Linked DNA regions of Homo sapiens: region 1 is linked to region 2. Evidence: fine-mapped expression QTL. A gene starts in region 2. The other region holds a variant in brackets. All regions are shown on one strand. Distances are from middle to middle.

Evidence for each region.
Region 1: its variant is fine-mapped to the expression of RNF32 in testis (GTEx, PIP 0.97).

Annotation. Positions count from the first base shown.
Region 1 is chr7:157,421,634-157,424,536 of GRCh38, forward strand. No RefSeq gene overlaps it. Among named protein-coding and RNA genes, the nearest start is that of DNAJB6, 86 kb to the left of the region's middle. The variant T/A (reference allele first, on the strand shown) is at 1,316.
Region 2 is chr7:156,639,033-156,641,935 of GRCh38, forward strand. It overlaps RNF32 (ring finger protein 32), which reads left to right and starts at 1,742. Exons shown (of 9, transcript NM_030936.4): 1 at 1,742-1,779. It overlaps RNF32-DT (RNF32 divergent transcript), which reads right to left and starts at 1,503. Exons shown (of 4, transcript NR_026865.2): 1 at 1-1,503. RefSeq lists an enhancer at 1,173-1,764 and a silencer at 1,333-1,642.

The sequences.
Region 1 (2,903 bases), 780 kb after region 2:
TTCTTTTTTTTTTTTTTTTTTTTGAGACGGAGTCTCGCTCTGTCGCCCAGGCTAAAGTGCAGTGGTGCGATCTCGGCTCACTGCAACCTCCGCCTCCCAGTTCAAGCGATTCTCCTGCCTCAGCCTCCCGAGTAGCTGGGATTACAGGCATGCACCACCACGCCCAGCTAATTTTTGTATTTTTAGTAGAGACGGAGTTTTGCCACGTTGGCCAGGCTGGTCTCGAACTCCTGACCTCAGGTGATCCACCCGCCTCGGCCTCCCAGTGCTGGGATGACAGGGGTGAGCCCCCGCGCCCGGCCCCATGGTTGTTCTCAGGCTGTGACACTGGGATGCATAAATCTTGAGATAATCCCTCTTGGTGTGGCTAAGCCAACAACTCCGTAGACCCTTAGCTTCATTTATTTTCTTTTACTTTCAACGTCTAGGATTTAAGAAATGTTTGCTGTAAATATGTGCATGGTTCCAAAGCAGAATTCACAAACAAGGCGCCCTCAGGGGAGTCCGGCTTCCGCACCTGCCCCAATGGGCTTTCATTTCCATTTGTTTTTATTTCCTTCCATTTCAATACATTAAACATAAACAAAAGTTACTTTTATTTATAACTTAATTACATAATATTTAAATAAACATGAGGCGATCCTTCACTCCCGCCTTTGCTTTTCCTTCCTGGGCGTCTGGAGGGCCGTGCGCCTCACCGGCAGACCTGCCGCATTCCGGACCTGCCCCTGCCCCCGCCCCGAGTTGCTCACCTGGATCCTCTGCCCCCTGTGCAGGTCCTGGGGGCCGTAGGACCTGCAGTCACACATCTGGGCCCAGCACAACCCGTGCGTGGGGCAGGAGACGCGGGCACCTCCTCCTGTGTGGCGGAGCCCCGTGCGCACCTGGCGGTCCTGCTGGAGACGCTGAGTGCAGTCACCGTAGGGGTGCTGGGGCCATGCTCCTCCAGGGTGTGGAGGGTCTCTCACCTCTGTGCTGGCCCTTCCACTCTCAGAGACTGGTAGCTCGTTCATCTCCCGCTGCCTTGCTATGCAGCGGCATCTGGGGTCTGGACTACCATTCGTGAGTGGCTGCAGAACGCCGGCCTCCTCATCCTGTTACTCATCCTGCCTTTATCAGCTTGATGTCTTCCGAAAAGAAGCCTTCCCGAGTTGAGCACGGTGGCTCATGCCTGTCATCCCAGCACTTCGGGAGGCTGAGGCAGGAGGATCCCTTGAGCCCAGGAGTTCCAGACCAGCCTGGGCAACTGAGTGAGACCCTGTCTCTACAAAAAACATAAAAAAGTTAGCCGGGTGTGGTGGCACACACCTGTAGC[T/A]CCAGCTACTCGGAGGCTGAGGTGGGAGGATCGCGTACACCCAGCTGTGATCATGACACTGTGCTCCAGCCTGGGCAACAGAGTGAGACCACCCTATCTAAAAAAAAAAGTCTTCCCTTATTGACTGGGCATTTGCTTGTACTGAAATGTACCTTCTACCCCAGATGAAAAGTATTAATTAACTGGAGTACATTGAGGGCCAAGCCCCAAGAGAAAGCTGCGTCACCAGGGAGCATTCGAAGGAGGAGGTCACCGTCTGCTTGGAGAAGAGGCACTCACTTTATTAACTTTAAATATTTTATTCCTAAATTTTGGAAGTAAAATCAACATACAGGGAATACCTGATCATTGGTAGAAAAACCAGAAATGCAGATATGAAAACAAAGAAATGATCCCTGCCACCTGGAGACCTTGTCTTGGTGGACACACAGCAGTCTGTGCTTTACCCAACGATATGCTGGGAAAGACATCGCATCAGGAAATATTTCCATGAATATTTTCGTGGCACAGAATTCCTTTGTACCGAGATGACTTCATCACAGCCCAGTGCCGTTCTTACTCCTGCGGGCTGACTTCCTGCAGGCGGAAATCCTGTTTTATTTTTTTGCCACTTCTGGGGAGGTTCTTGTTCCTACAGGGTCCCACAGGGTCCCTTCCTGGACTTGTCTGTTGTCTTTGGGGCGGATTCCCAGAAGTGGGATGGCCAGGTCAAAGGTCAGATGAGCGCTCATCCCTGCGAGCTTCTACGCACCCGCACTCCTCCCCCTGCCTGCCCTGGTCCTTAAGAGGGGTCCTGCCCTCCATCAGGTTGGTCAGGGCAGCTCCCCTGCAGCCCACACTGGCTGTGGACAGAGCAGGGTGCCTGGAAGGCGTCCCTAGATTCATATTTTAGAGGTTTCTGACAGTTTTTTTTATTTGGCAAAACAGTTTTCTCCTGCATCTGGAACCCTCCCAGGCGAGCCCTTCGGTTGCACTGAGGAAGGGCCACAATCGTGGTTCTTGGCAAGCGAGGCGTGGACATGGCTGGCGCTGGTGGGAGGCCTCAGCCGTGTGGGGGCCCTGTGTGTCCTGACGAGGCCACCCACGCGGCTGCAGGGCTGTTGGGCATCTCAGAGGGCGAGGGCGCCAAGGGGCTGGGCTCTAGACGCTGTCCTGGCAGGCAGGCGTGGGGAGAGTTGGGCTGGGTGAGCACCCGTGGGATTCCCGGAGGTTATTTGGGGATGGGAGCACCCCGGGAAAGATGGACTTCCCGCGTTTGGGTGCCTTGGGCCCCTCGTCGCTGGGGTTTGAGTGTTCCTGGCGAGGCGCTGCTGTTCTGAGCCCAGACCAGGGGGCGGTGATGCCCTGGGGACTCCTCAAGGGCAGGCCCTCGCCATCCCTGGGCGGTCCTGGGTTTCTCCCCGTGCTGACTTCGTTTCTTCTCAGGAGAGGACAGAGCGGGCTGCCACTGTCACTGCTGTGCTGTGTAGGTGCAAAGCCCAGGGCCAGAACCCCCTAGCCAGGGGAGGTGCAGCCCAGCCTACCGTTCACCTGGACAGGAAGCAGGCAGGGACCAGGGCTGCCTCTCAGAGCCGGGCAGGTGGTGCCT
Region 2 (2,903 bases):
AGGACTGAAGAAGTACCAGGGCTGTTGCTGGAGAGTGGCTAATGTCCCCTTTACAAATAAGGAGCTCATGGTTTAGGAAGATGAGCTTGCCAAAAATCACACACTTGTAAAATAAGTCAAAATTTGAACTTAAGTCTACTTATCTGAGCCCAAAGTCTTACAACCATTTATGGCTGTTATCCTAACACCTACGTCGCGGAACGGAAGAGTCCTAAGACTGCAAAGACCCTTCCTTTTCTTCTAGATCCAGTCTAAGTTGGTTGGTAATTTCTTTAGACCCTGCTTTCAGGGAAGTTTAAAAAAAATTACTTGCATTTGTATATTTTCCTTGTATTTTCGGCCAAATTTCTTCTAATTAAAGTACAACATAAGTTGAACCAACACAATAATTGTCATATTAAGAAAAGATAAAACAAACTTTACTCATTTCTGCTTCTGGGCATGGAGTGTGAGGGACCAGACTTAAGTTCTCAAACAACTACAAAATCAGACCAAAAAATACAATGGTTTCCAGGCACCGGACGACAGGCAGTGCAGGGCTGTGATCCTTAAGAGAAGGGAAGCAGCGAGCCAGAGTATCCAGGCCACAACCCAAATGGAGGCCAAGAGAGGAACAGCAGAGGATACAGAGGGAGGGTTCCAGGGGCCAAGACGCAATCCGAGGGGAAGCCCTTCCGGGGAGAGCTGGAGTCCTGGGGTGGCCTTCTCGAGTCTTCCCGAGCAGGTCTGTGCAGCGAGGAAACATCCGAGGCTGGAGTGAGCCACGCGGAGGAGGAAGAACAGCCCGAGCTCACAGGGGCGGGGAAGAGTTCTAGCTCGCGACAGCCCCTGGGAGGAACCCTGCACTATTTGTGGCGTCGAGTAAAGCACCGGAAGGCTCTGCTCAGGAGCGTGAACGACACCGCCCGCTGCAAGCCTGGAAAGGAACGCGTTGCCTCAATTCACTCCGATGTGTCACACACGCGGCTCAGTCACCTAGGGAGCAGGAAAAGGCCAGCGGGCCACGCAGGGCTCACCCGGGCCTGCATCCAAACGCAAACGGCCAGGCCCACGAAGCAGGAAACACAACCCGCAACGAGAAGCAAAGGGATCCACAGAGAAGGGCCAGGAGTCACGGACGACGCCAGGCAGTCGGCGCCTGCGCTTCCGCGAGCCAAGACGCCTGAGCGGCGCGGGGGGATCGGGGGATCCCCCAGAAAACTGCCCTCGACTAACAGCGCAGCGAAGGGGCGGTGCGCTCGAGACCCTGGAACGGGAACGACCACAGCCACCGCAGGGAAACAACCGGGGCCCAGGCCCAGGTGGGCGGGCGGCTGAGGAGCGTGGCTGCGCCCACAAAGCCGCCGGGGGCTGCGGACTACAGCGAAGCCGGCGCGGGGCTCGGCCCTCACTACACGAGGCCTGGGCGCCTGCACGCCCCCGTGCTTCAGCCCGCGGCTCCCGAACACCCCCGCCAGGCGATCCCCAAAAACGCCCGCTGCGCGAGCCTCGACGGGAACGCACCTGCGTCTAGACGCTGACGCCGTGCGCGGGGCGGGGGCCGGCGAGCATGCGCAGTGTGGTGTGGACAGGGCGTGGTTGGCAAGCATGCGCAATGTGGGCCGGGCGGGGCTGGCGAGCATGCGCAGTATGGGGCGGGGCGGGGCAGGGCTGGTGAGCAAGCCCGCGGGGAGCGAGCGCGGAGGCGGGCGTTGCTACGGCAACGGTGGGCGGCCAGGGAGTTGCCTGAGGGAAAAGGGGCAGACGTCCCTGGGTTCCGGTGTTCGCGGAGGAGTCGAGGCACGGAGAGGCTTCGGGGGAGGGACGGAAAGAAGGGTGGCCCGCCAGGCGGGCGGGGTCCATGGATTCGGGGTGAGGGCCGTCCGCGGCCTCGCTTTCGCCTCCTCCGAGCCGGGCCGGCGATGGCCGCAGCTGTGAGGCGAGGTCGGGTCCCGTAGCGGCGCGCAGCCTCCTTGGGGGACTCGGGGTCCTGGTTAGTTTCCACAGCTCCTTCTATCTGAGGGGTACGAATTTACGGCTGCCTAAAGCCTTAGAACAGTGATCCCACGTCGGTAATTTTAGAACCCGGTAGGACCGGCTGCCATCAGGGGCCCCAGGTGCAGGGTGGTGTCAGCTTTGAGAGGAATTGGAGCCTCGTCACCGCGCGCTTCCTGCATGAGTGGAACCTCAGAAAACGGTCAGCGGGGTTCAGAAGGCAGGAGATAACACCAAGACCCTACGTAGGATTGCATCTTTACGTCGTAGGCTTGGTCTCGTGTATTTTTATTGAGCGTGTTTAATTAGCTGAGGTTACTCGCTTTGGCACCCCAGTGATCGTTTTTGCCACCAAGCTCTGCCTCTTGAGCGTTTAATACTGGGATTTACAAAGCAACGGGTTCCTGTTAATCTTAGCTTTCAATACTGGGCAAGGGTTACGTTTCTAACCCTACCAGTGCCGCAGGCTCATTATATATTGAAGGACTCACCTGGTATTTGGTTTTCTCATTTATAAAGTGGAGTTGGAGTAGGTACTTGAAGGGTTTTCAATACCTTTAAATTCTGAATTTTAAACTCTAAAACTTAATGATACCGTAGGACTTTAAGAGAGTATAGGTTTTAAAAGCTCTTACCTTGATATTAATGACAGTGGTCTACTGTGTAGAAACTTGAGATTAAATTGCAGACTGCAGCTATGACCGGACCATTTTTAGTGTGATGCAAACTGTATCTTCTGCAGGTTATAGGCATTTTGGAAGCAGGAACTGAGAAAATTCTGGCAGTGATCTTTCAGTATTTTAAATTCCACCATTTCTCCAAGTTCAGTTGTCTTGATGAGATACAGGGTGGAACTTATTTCAAACATCTCTTGATGCCAGAATTGAACGGGAACAGAAAAGGGCTGTAGTAAGAACCATCATCAAAGC